Linked DNA regions of Homo sapiens: region 1 is reported to be linked to region 2. The links are microRNA targets in miRTarBase. Many come from high-throughput screens and were not tested one by one. Region 2 holds a microRNA gene; the other region holds the end of a gene's coding sequence.

Evidence for each region. Region 2 holds the annotated microRNA hsa-miR-1276 (UAAAGAGCCCUGUGGAGACA, at 1,790-1,809, shown strand). A microRNA usually pairs through its seed, bases 2 to 8, with sites in the 3' UTR of a target mRNA and lowers its output. Matches are read on the target gene's strand: a 7mer-m8 pairs with bases 2 to 8, a 7mer-A1 pairs with bases 2 to 7 and ends in A, and an 8mer does both.
Region 1: the mRNA of HLX is a reported target of hsa-miR-1276. The part of its 3' UTR that is shown has no 7-base or 8-base seed match.

The regions. Positions count from the first base shown.
Region 1 is chr1:220,883,962-220,889,326 of GRCh38, forward strand. HLX (H2.0 like homeobox) reads left to right here. Exons shown (of 4, transcript NM_021958.4): 4 at 234-1,098. The coding sequence ends at 743. Among named protein-coding and RNA genes, the nearest start is that of HLX-AS1, 6.5 kb to the left of the region's middle.
Region 2 is chr15:85,766,992-85,772,356 of GRCh38, reverse strand. MIR1276 (microRNA 1276) reads left to right here and starts at 1,779; the gene lies at 1,779-1,861. KLHL25 (kelch like family member 25) reads left to right here. Exons shown (of 3, transcript NM_022480.4): 2 at 2,537-4,340. The coding sequence starts at 2,547. The coding sequence ends at 4,316. RefSeq lists enhancers at 1,475-2,247, 2,248-3,022, 3,023-3,796, 3,797-4,571.

The sequences.
Region 1 (5,365 bases), not on the chromosome of region 2:
TTTGAAAACGGTCTTAGTGGGTTCCCTAGGCCAGGATTCCTGGCTTCTTGTGTTCCCCTGGGCTGCCCCTTGGCTCCTGCGCCTACCACAGTGTCTGGTCCTTGGTAGAGTCGCCAAGTAAGCGTTGCTTTTTCACTCAGGGAGGTGGCTTGAGGGTGCACGCGAGTCGGATAGGAGCAAACCTGGGTCTCATCTCGGTGTCTCTTCTTGTCTCCCGGTGTGGCGCGGCGCAGGTGAAGGTGTGGTTCCAGAACCGGCGGATGAAGTGGCGGCACTCCAAGGAGGCCCAGGCCCAAAAGGACAAGGACAAGGAGGCTGGCGAGAAGCCATCAGGTGGAGCCCCGGCTGCGGATGGCGAGCAGGACGAGAGGAGCCCCAGCCGTTCTGAAGGCGAGGCTGAGAGCGAGAGCAGCGACTCCGAGTCCCTGGACATGGCCCCCAGCGACACGGAGCGGACTGAGGGGAGTGAGCGTTCTCTGCACCAAACAACAGTTATTAAGGCCCCGGTCACTGGCGCCCTCATTACCGCCAGCAGTGCTGGGAGTGGTGGGAGCAGCGGCGGCGGCGGCAATAGTTTCAGCTTCAGCAGCGCCAGCAGTCTTAGTAGCAGCAGCACCAGTGCGGGTTGCGCCAGCAGCCTTGGCGGCGGCGGCGCCTCGGAGCTTCTCCCTGCAACACAGCCCACAGCCAGCAGCGCTCCCAAAAGCCCCGAGCCAGCCCAAGGCGCGCTTGGCTGCTTATAGACTGTACTAGGGCGGAGGGGATCCGGGCCTTGCGTGCAGCCTCCCAACCATGGGCTGGGTTTTGTGCTTACTGTATGTTGGCGACTTGGTAGGGCAGGAGACGCAGCGTGGAGCCTACCTCCCGACATTCACGCTTCGCCCCACGCTGCTCCGACTGGCTGCAGCGGACACTGCCCAAAGCAGAGGGGAGTCTCAGTGTCCTGCTAGCCAGCCGAACACTTCTCTCCGGAAGCAGGCTGGTTCGACTGTGAGGTGTTTGACTAAACTGTTTCTCTGACTCGCCCCAGAGGTCGTGGCTCAAAGGCACTTAGGACGCCTTAAATTTGTAAATAAAATGTTTACTACGGTTTGTAAAGGCCGCTTGGCTTTGCTGGGGGTTGTTAAGGCCAGAGATCTACAACCGGACCTTAGTCCCGGGGACACTGTAGAATGCAGCAGCTGAAGGTGGTGGGGCTGGAGTTTCAGGGGAAGTGGCTCAACCTCAGAGCCATCTTGTTACAGACATCAGAGATGGGCGTCTGGGTTTAGAGGCTTCTAATTAAGAGATTTCTAGCGCCAACTGCCACTGAAAGTGCCCTCTGAGACCCTGAGTAGCCTGAGAGTGGAGCAGGCCATAGAAACTGTTAGGCCAGTGCAACAGATGGTTTCCCCATTCACAGTATGGACGAAATGAGTTCCTAGAGTACTCAGAGTTGGAATGGGGAAGGCAGTGATGCCAGGCGGGGTCAATCTAGGCACAGCTGTAATCACTATGTGGACGCGAAGCGCGGGCCCAGAGCCCTGCACAAACTTTTCCTTGTTCCGGGATGGGGTAGAGGACAGGTTTGCAATGTTGCTGAGGAAAGGACAGACATGACACAGTGGTTAGAGCTGGAAGCTTGGGTCTTAGAGTGCCAGGGCCCTGGTTGTAAACATGCCAAACAAAGAGGTGACTTCTTCAAGGTGAAGCAGAGGCACAGCCCAGATCAGAACTTGGACTTCCTGGCCTACATGTGGCCACGGATAGAACTATGAAGTTGCATCCTCCATTCCCTCATCCACGCAAAAATTTTCCTTTGCAATTTGGCCACTGGAGGTGCCTAGATGAGCTCTTTCTCCCCAAAGCTGCTGAGAGTCGTGAGGCAGTTTCCCCATCCCACTGCAGCTGGAAAATATGTAGTAAACCTTGACACTGCTACTAGGATGGGCAATTCAAAGATTTTTTGTTTGTTTATTTCTTTTAAAGGTGAAAAGTTAAACCTCTCTCCAGGACCTGTCCTCCTGCTTGTAACTGTGAAATGTCTGGAGTTGCTAAAAGCTCTTTGGGGGGATTTTATAGCAAATAGATTTCTTTGGGAAATCCTGATCAGTCTCAGTGCCAATCTCTTCGGCACTGAGCAAGTGAAGGACACAAGGTCTCTGGCAGACCCAGCATCCAGGCGGGGTGGCCAGTTCTCAGAATGAGTTGAGGAGAGGTGCTGAAGTCAGAGAGCCTAGGACACACCTCAGTCCCTTGGCCAGAGTGGGAAAGTTCTCAGCAGTCCTCTGTCTTGCTTATCTCCTCCACTTTTAGACATTCCCCTGGAGCTCATTCCAGGATCTCTGTTCTCGACTTTTCCATCCAGGGGTGAAGTAGAGGCAGCAGATTGAGCCTTCTTACACTTGCATAGCCAGATACAAGATACAGATAACAAGTCCCAAAGCCAACACATGGATGCAAAGATGATCATTTCCTGACCCAGCCAACCCCCTAAGTCCCCAAATCGAGATGATTCAAGAGCAGTGAGAATGGAGTAGGGGCAGAATGATCAGAGATGTACAATTTAGTCAAGAGAAAAGAAAGAGCATACCACAAGGGACCCCATCTTCAATAGGAACATGAACTAGCTGTTATCCCTAATTGTGTCACAAGAGTTTCCAGGCCAGGGCAGCCTCCCCACCTGGCCTGGGTGCGGGCCAGGGCTGGGATAGTTCTTCAAGCCTTCTGTAGGCTCTGCTGCCAAACTTCAGGATTCCCTCTGTACCTCAGTTTTGTCTGCATTATCGATATCAATTTCCCCTGACCCCACATATCGAAATTCTGGAAGCAGGATATCCCAAGCACATCGAATTTTGAGGTGCTTCAATCCAGCTCTGGCGTTAAGGAGAATAACGCGTCGGCACGCACACTTAGCTGAGGAGCGGAGTCTAGGGAAGAAAGGTGGGGAGGATGCTTTATACAAACCGCACTTTCCCCTGCTCCTCACCTGGCCCTGGAGGTTTCCGCTACCGCCAAACCCAGACCGTAGGTCCACGCCCTGGCCCCGGGGCTTTGAACGTGAAGAAAATCATCATCGGGGAATGTCATGATGTGATTTCAGGTAGAATTCTGCCTTATTTAGGCCACCTTTCGCCAGGCCAGGGGGCACGGCAGAGCTGGGGGGCTCAGGGATGAAGTGAGCCGGGGGGGTGAGCGCCTGAGGGCGGGAGTCAGAAGGACGAATACCACCCTAGTGCTCGCAGGAGGCGCCCCTGCTTCCGCCACCCCCACCCCCAGTTCCTAGTCAGTTATCACCTGAAGTTCTTGCGGGGCTTTACCCTAGCAGTGGAGTTCTTCCACATTTCATCAGAATCGGAATATCACAAGCCCCGGAAAAGTTACAGTTCATCTGGAAGAAGGGTAGCCACAGGTGGCCAGGAGGAAAGGCTAAAATTTGGCCGGATAGTCCCATCCCAGGGCTGCTCTCTCGACCCCGGGTACTGGGGTCTTCTTGGCAGCGCAAAATGCTAGCAAAGGCGGCCAAGCAGCTCGAAATTCTTCAACCAAGACCTAGAGTTTTCAGACCCGGAAGAGAAGGCCCAGCGCGGACCGTGCGGGGCGCTAGAACCGCTCAGGGTTGAGGCTTGGAGCAGGAGAGCGCGCGGGCCCCGGAGCAGAGCAGAGCAGAGCAGAACAGAGCCGCGGCCCCCGCCCCTCCTGCACACAACCCGAGACTCCAGCCAGCGATTGCTCTTTGAGCAAAGCTTTGCCTAGCCCGCTGAAGTCCCCGCTGCGCGGAGCCCTCCGAAAAAGGCTACCAAGGTGCACAGAGGCTCACAGAGGGATGGTGACCACGGTGCGTTTCCTTTGGGGCGGGGGTAGGGACTCAATACCCATCACCCATCCCCTCCAACGTGGACGCACACAGACCTGCAGATTCATATAGACACACGAGAGACAGGCAGTATACTGGCTATTTCAGCACTTTGCGGGTAAAACCACGCTAATAAATTTCCCCATTCTCCTCCATATGGCAAAGCAGAGAGGAGCCTCTGCCGCCTTATTCAGCCTGTGTGGGTGGGTAGGGCGCTTGTTTCCACAGAGAATTTGCCTAGCGCCAAGTTCCGCGGACTAAACCACTGAAGGCTGGCGCCGCGTTTCTCTCCCTTTTGCCCGCTTCAGTCGAGAGTGGGCATAGACATCCTTGCGAGCAGTGTGTCTCCCTCGCCTTCCTGTGCCCACCCCCCCGCCCGAGGCCAAAGTCGTCAGCCCCCGGGGCAGGTCCAGGCGAGGTCCTGCTTCCAAGGGAGGCTCAGGTCATTATACCAGCCAGGGAGATTTCCCGCTTCTCTCCCTCTACTCCCTGCAAAGAGTCGTGTGGATTGTAGGCGGGCTCAGACTCTGCTTGCCACAAATCCCTCTGACATCCTTTGCACCTCAGAGGCAACCATAAAGGAACTCCAGTCACTCTGGGATCTTTTCTCTGGCTGCCCTCTCTACCCAGGATCTGGAGTTTGATGTTGGCAGGGGATGAACTAGGTTGTGGCCAGCGCAGGGCAGGCACAGTAAGAGCGCCTAGGCTTCTTTTCAAGGTGTCAGAAGCCGAAGAAACAGGAGAGTGAAACCTGGGTTCTCCTGTCTGGGAAGGCAACCGCCAACGAAAGCTTCGGAGTCAGGAGAGGGGTGTGGTAGAAACCAGGGCTTGTAGCAGTGGATTTTCTGCGGGCACCTGGACTTGACTTGATCTGTTGAGCTTTAACCTGTTGAGCTTTAATCTGTTTCCACAGATCTGAACCCACCTCTGCTCAAGCCCACGCCTACCTGAGACTCTCAGTGGGCTGGATGGAGCACGAAACGGGGGAAGAGAAGTCAGAGGCTGAGGTTGATGCAGTCTCCCATCGTTTTCAGGCATCCTAGTCCCCTCTCCGGCTTCTTCCTCCCTTAAGAAGAAAAAGTAGGCAAGCTCAGCCCTCCCCCACGTGATGTAGTGACACCGCTTTAAAGATGACCAAGAGGACCCTAAACATGCTGGGACATCACATTCTCCTTCTTTAGCCTTGTGAGTTGGAAAGGACTGATTGCACACTCCAATGTATTTGTGAAGATGCGAGTTTTAAGGAGGATTTTAACTACAGGTATTTGGGCTAGGGAAGATTTTTTAAAATCCGAAATTTTGATTTAACTCATGCACTCATCTAGCTCACAGCCTCCATTTTTGAGGTCATGATGAGATTGGCTGGCGTCCCAAAGACAAACTAGTTGGCTTTCTCTGAAGCTTCCCTTCACACACTGGGATATTACAACCCACAGTGCCTACCCTCTGCCAGCCACTCTTGGGGAATCCAGACTGCTTACACAGGGTGGGGAGCACTTTCTAAGATTCCCTTCAACTCAGGTTCTAACA
Region 2 (5,365 bases):
ACCTAGAGCAGGGAGGTCCTTGGAAGCACAAGTGTGTTGACAATGGAACTGAAGCCAAACCTCAGCATCAGGGCCCTTGAACGTGACCTCAGTGGAGAGGGCATGGGCTTAGGAGTCCCAGGGCTCGAACTAGAATTCTTCCTGGTCCTTGGCTCTCCACGTTTCCCCCAGCACGGTCTGCAGACCAGAGGCAACAAATGCCTCTTAAAATGTCCTGACACTGTGGGGTGGGGCAGGAGGGGACAGAGCCACATTTGGGAAATTGTCTGATCACCAAGGGGGTGGTCTGGAGTGAGGAAACTGGAGTGAGAGTTTAGCAATCACAGCAAGATTTGGGGAAATGTCGCAGGGTCTGGAATTCAGATTAGGCAATTCCGATCAGTCACGGGCCAGGCTGTTGGCAAAGCTTCCCTCAGACCCGGTCAGCGCAGTCTCTCAGGCTCCGTGCCACTGCATCTGAGGGCCCAGCTTCGAGGATGTGCTCAGGAAATAGTTGCCAACAAGTGAGTTGTGGAGGCCTGAGTAGGATGGGGATCTCACTTTACAAGAAAATAATAGTGAGGTACAGGATGGAGGTGGAGCCAGGATACAGCCTGGATCTGCGTCCAGTGCTCTCACCCCAACCCCCAGAAGGGCTAACCTCATATAGCCTCGGAGCCCTGTGGACTGTGGGCTGCAGGTTTGGACAGCAGTGTCTTAGGCAGGTCCTCGGTGTACAGTCTACCTGGAGCTTGGGGGTCCAAGCAGCAAGGCCAGTCTGGCCCTGTGCCCTCTCTGCCTAAGCCCAAAAGCAGGGACCTTGCTAGCTCTAATCTCGTCAGTTTGTGGCTTCTCTGCCTCTTTTCCAGAGGAGGAGTGAGCAAGAGAGAGCCATGTAGCCGGACACTCATTTACAATTTCACTGAAGCATGAAATCGTTTCCTACCTTTACCAGATTATTACCTAAGTAGAAAATTGACTTGGAGTGGGAGGCGGCAGGAGAGTTACATACTTTTGAAAATTAAAAATGAAAAACTTTGTTGTTTAGGGTTTTTTGTTTTTCTTGGCCCCATTACCAGCAGGAAGACAGCAGCACAGGCTTTTAGGGGGTCAAGATACTGGAATGCAGTTTGCTTTTTGGCCATGTTTTCTTTTCTTTCTTTTTTTTTTTTTTTTCAGGCTTAATTCACTTTATTTTTCTTGTATAAAAACCCTGTTGTAGCCACAGCTGGAGCGTAGGTCCTCTGCATGGAGACTCTGGTGAGGGTCTTGACAAGGTGGTCAGTGAATTCCTGATCGGGAGACTTGGTGAATACAGTCTCCTTCCACAGGTCAGTGGGGCAGGTAGCTGTGGTCTTCGAGATGGCCTCAAGGGTGTTGGCCATGTTTTCTCTAGGTATATGAGTTTTGCCGCCTGTTGGCTGAGCCTTGAGTTCAAAGTACTGAACTGGGGCCTCGGGTCATGCCATTCACTGGACATTAATGACAGTGCTTTAGAATTCCCCTAGATTGAGCAAGTAGTGAACCTGTTTCTTGGCCATCACTCCATCACTCTGAGCGCCAGGTCCCCAGGCCTGGTGGAGAAGGGCAGGCAAGGGAGGCAGGGGAGGCGCTGCGTTGGCCCAGGATCCTGGCGTCAGCTGGGGGACCTGGGAAGCTCTGGCTTCGTGTTTCTCTGCTTTGCTGAGGCAAATCTGGATCACTTCCGTTAGGGTTCGGCATGTCCTGCTGTCATCTTGGGCCTCTGCGTTGGTCTCGAGGGTGAGTCACTGGCGGCCCCACCTCCAAGCCATCACTTGCCCCAGCTAGGTAAAGAGCCCTGTGGAGACACCTGGATTCAGAGAACATGTCTCCACTGAGCACTTGGGCCTTGATGGCGGCTCTTGTTCCAAGGCAAGGGGGATGTCTAGCCAGTACCGCTTGGAGCCCGGCCCAGGGCAGAGCCTGCTGGGAGCAGGGAAGTGGGTACGTGAGGCTCTGCTTGGGCGTCCACAGCAAACCCTGCAGGGATTAGTCACCTTGAACAGAGATCAGGCTCCAGAGCCGGACAGCCCATGTGAGAATCCTGGCTGTGGCAGTTTGGGTAGTTTCTTGGCCTCTCTGAGCTGTGGCTTCCCTAGCTCTAAAATGGGACTTACAAGAGAAGCTTCTGTAGAGGACTGTCATGAGAGTGGAATGTGGTCAAAGGCACCAGTTACTTAGCACTGCCCGGACACCAGCCTCAGTCAGGAACACCGTTTGCATGTTCTCTTAACCATGGGAGGCAGCCTCAACTGGAGCTTGCCTAGGGGGTGGCTCATCTGCAGGCCAGAGATGTTTGTCCCAGAGCTGGCTCATACCCTGAGAACAAAACCAGTTTCTGCAGGGCAGGGTGAGACCCAGCCACTCTTGCCTGTGTTGTCCTTGGCAACGTGGTTGCGGGAGAGGGGCTTGGTTTAGCAGAGGTGAGCAGAGAGTGGGTGGGAGGGGACAAGGGGGCTTGTGCTGAAGAGTGAGCCCTGAGAGGGCAGATGGGCAGGAGGGGCTCCTCTAACCTGTGGGCTTGTTCCCCCACAAGCTGACGCACCATGTCGGTCAGTGTCCATGAGACCCGCAAGTCGCGGAGCAGCACGGGGTCCATGAACGTCACCCTCTTCCACAAGGCCTCCCACCCGGACTGTGTGCTGGCCCACCTCAACACGCTTCGCAAGCACTGCATGTTCACCGACGTCACACTCTGGGCGGGCGACCGTGCCTTCCCCTGTCACCGTGCCGTGCTGGCCGCCTCTAGCCGCTATTTTGAGGCCATGTTCAGCCATGGCCTTCGGGAGAGCCGGGATGACACTGTCAACTTCCAGGACAACCTGCACCCGGAGGTGCTGGAGCTGCTGCTGGACTTTGCCTACTCCTCACGCATCGCCATCAACGAGGAGAACGCTGAGTCACTGCTGGAGGCAGGCGACATGCTGCAGTTCCACGATGTGCGGGATGCTGCCGCCGAGTTCCTGGAGAAGAACCTTTTCCCCTCCAACTGCCTGGGCATGATGCTGCTCTCGGACGCCCACCAGTGCCGCCGGCTGTATGAGTTCTCCTGGCGCATGTGCCTGGTGCACTTTGAGACGGTGAGGCAGAGCGAGGACTTCAACAGCCTGTCCAAGGACACACTGCTGGACCTCATCTCGAGTGATGAGCTGGAGACCGAGGACGAGCGGGTGGTCTTCGAGGCCATCCTCCAGTGGGTGAAGCACGACCTGGAGCCACGGAAGGTCCACTTGCCCGAGCTCCTCCGCAGCGTGCGTCTGGCCTTGCTGCCGTCCGACTGCCTGCAGGAGGCCGTCTCCAGCGAGGCCCTCCTCATGGCAGACGAGCGCACCAAGCTTATCATGGATGAGGCCCTGCGCTGCAAGACCAGGATCCTGCAGAATGATGGCGTGGTCACCAGCCCCTGTGCCCGGCCACGCAAGGCGGGCCACACGCTACTCATCCTGGGGGGCCAGACCTTCATGTGTGACAAGATCTACCAGGTGGACCACAAGGCCAAGGAGATCATCCCCAAGGCCGACCTGCCCAGCCCCCGGAAGGAGTTCAGCGCCTCAGCGATCGGCTGCAAGGTCTATGTGACGGGGGGCAGGGGCTCCGAGAACGGGGTCTCCAAGGATGTCTGGGTGTACGACACCGTACATGAGGAATGGTCCAAGGCGGCGCCCATGCTGATTGCCCGCTTTGGCCATGGCTCAGCTGAGCTGGAGAACTGCCTCTATGTGGTGGGGGGACACACATCCCTGGCAGGGGTCTTCCCGGCCTCGCCTTCTGTCTCCCTGAAACAAGTGGAGAAATACGACCCTGGGGCCAACAAGTGGATGATGGTGGCCCCCTTGCGGGATGGCGTCAGCAATGCCGCAGTGGTGAGTGCCAAGCTGAAGCTCTTTGTTTTCGGAGGAACCAGCATCCACCGGGACATGGTGTCCAAGGTCCAGTGCTATGACCCCTCGGAGAACAGGTGGACGATCAAGGCCGAGTGCCCCCAGCCTTGGCGGTACACAGCCGCTGCCGTCCTGGGCAGCCAGATCTTCATCATGGGAGGTGACACGGAATTCACAGCCGCCTCGGCCTACCGCTTTGACTGTGAGACCAACCAGTGGACGCGGATTGGGGACATGACTGCCAAGCGCATGTCCTGCCATGCCCTGGCTTCCGGCAACAAGCTCTATGTGGTCGGGGGCTACTTTGGGACCCAGAGGTGTAAGACTCTGGACTGCTATGACCCCACTTCAGATACATGGAACTGCATCACCACAGTGCCCTACTCACTTATCCCCACGGCCTTTGTCAGCACCTGGAAGCACCTGCCCGCGTGAGGAGCACCTGCTGAGCCCAGCCAGGTGAGTCCCTGGCAGCCCACGGCCACTCTGGGTCCGGAAAGGTCATGGGGGAATGCAGTCCCACCTCTTCCCACTGGGTGAAGGTCACCGTGTCTTCCAGGGAAGTCTGGGTGGGCAGCAGGTGGCTGGTGTGCTCTGGAGTCAAATCCTGGCTCTGCCTTCTATTTGCAGTTAACCTGGAGCAAATTATTGAACCAGTCTGCAAAATGGGGACAGTAACCATGGTTAGACCAACATGGTGGTTCCCAAACATGGTTATACTTCAGAATCACCCAGGGACCTTTTGACAGTGCTGTGTGGAGCATAGGTCAACCTGCAGAGTCTGAGGGTGCAGTCTCCACACAAGCCTGCTCTTACTTTTGACACCAGGTGCAACAAAGGGGGCCTCCCAAACCACCCTCGGTCAATTTTGCCAGAAAGACTTATAGAAGTCGCTGAAGGCTGTTATGCTCACAGTTACAGTTTATTATAGGGGAAAGATACAGATTAAGATAAGCCAAGGGAAGAGACATGTACTAAGGCAGAGTCCAGGAGAATGGCCCCCTCCCCATGGAGTCAGGACAGTGTTACTCTCCTGGCACTGATGAGTGATGATATGTATGAAGATTGCCAACCAGGCCCGGGCATGGTGGCTCATGCCTATAATCCCAGCACTTTAGGAGGGCTGAGGTGGGCAGATGGCTTGAGCCCAATTCAAGACCAGCCTGGGCAATGTGAAAGTCAGTCCTGGCCGGGCACAGTGGCTCATGCCTGTAACCCCAGCACTTTGAGAGGCCGAGGTGGGCAGATCATGAGGTCAGGAGATCGAGACCATCCTGGCTAACAAGTGAAACCCCATCCCTACTAAAAATACAAAAAATGAGCCAGGCATGGTGGTGCACACCTGTAATCCCAGCTACTTGGGAGGCTGAGGTAGGAGGATCACTTGAACCTGGGAGACAGAGGCTGCAGTGAGCCAAGATCATGCCGCTGTACTCCAGCCTGGGCAACAGTGAGACTCCGTCTCAAAAAAAAAAAAAAAATGA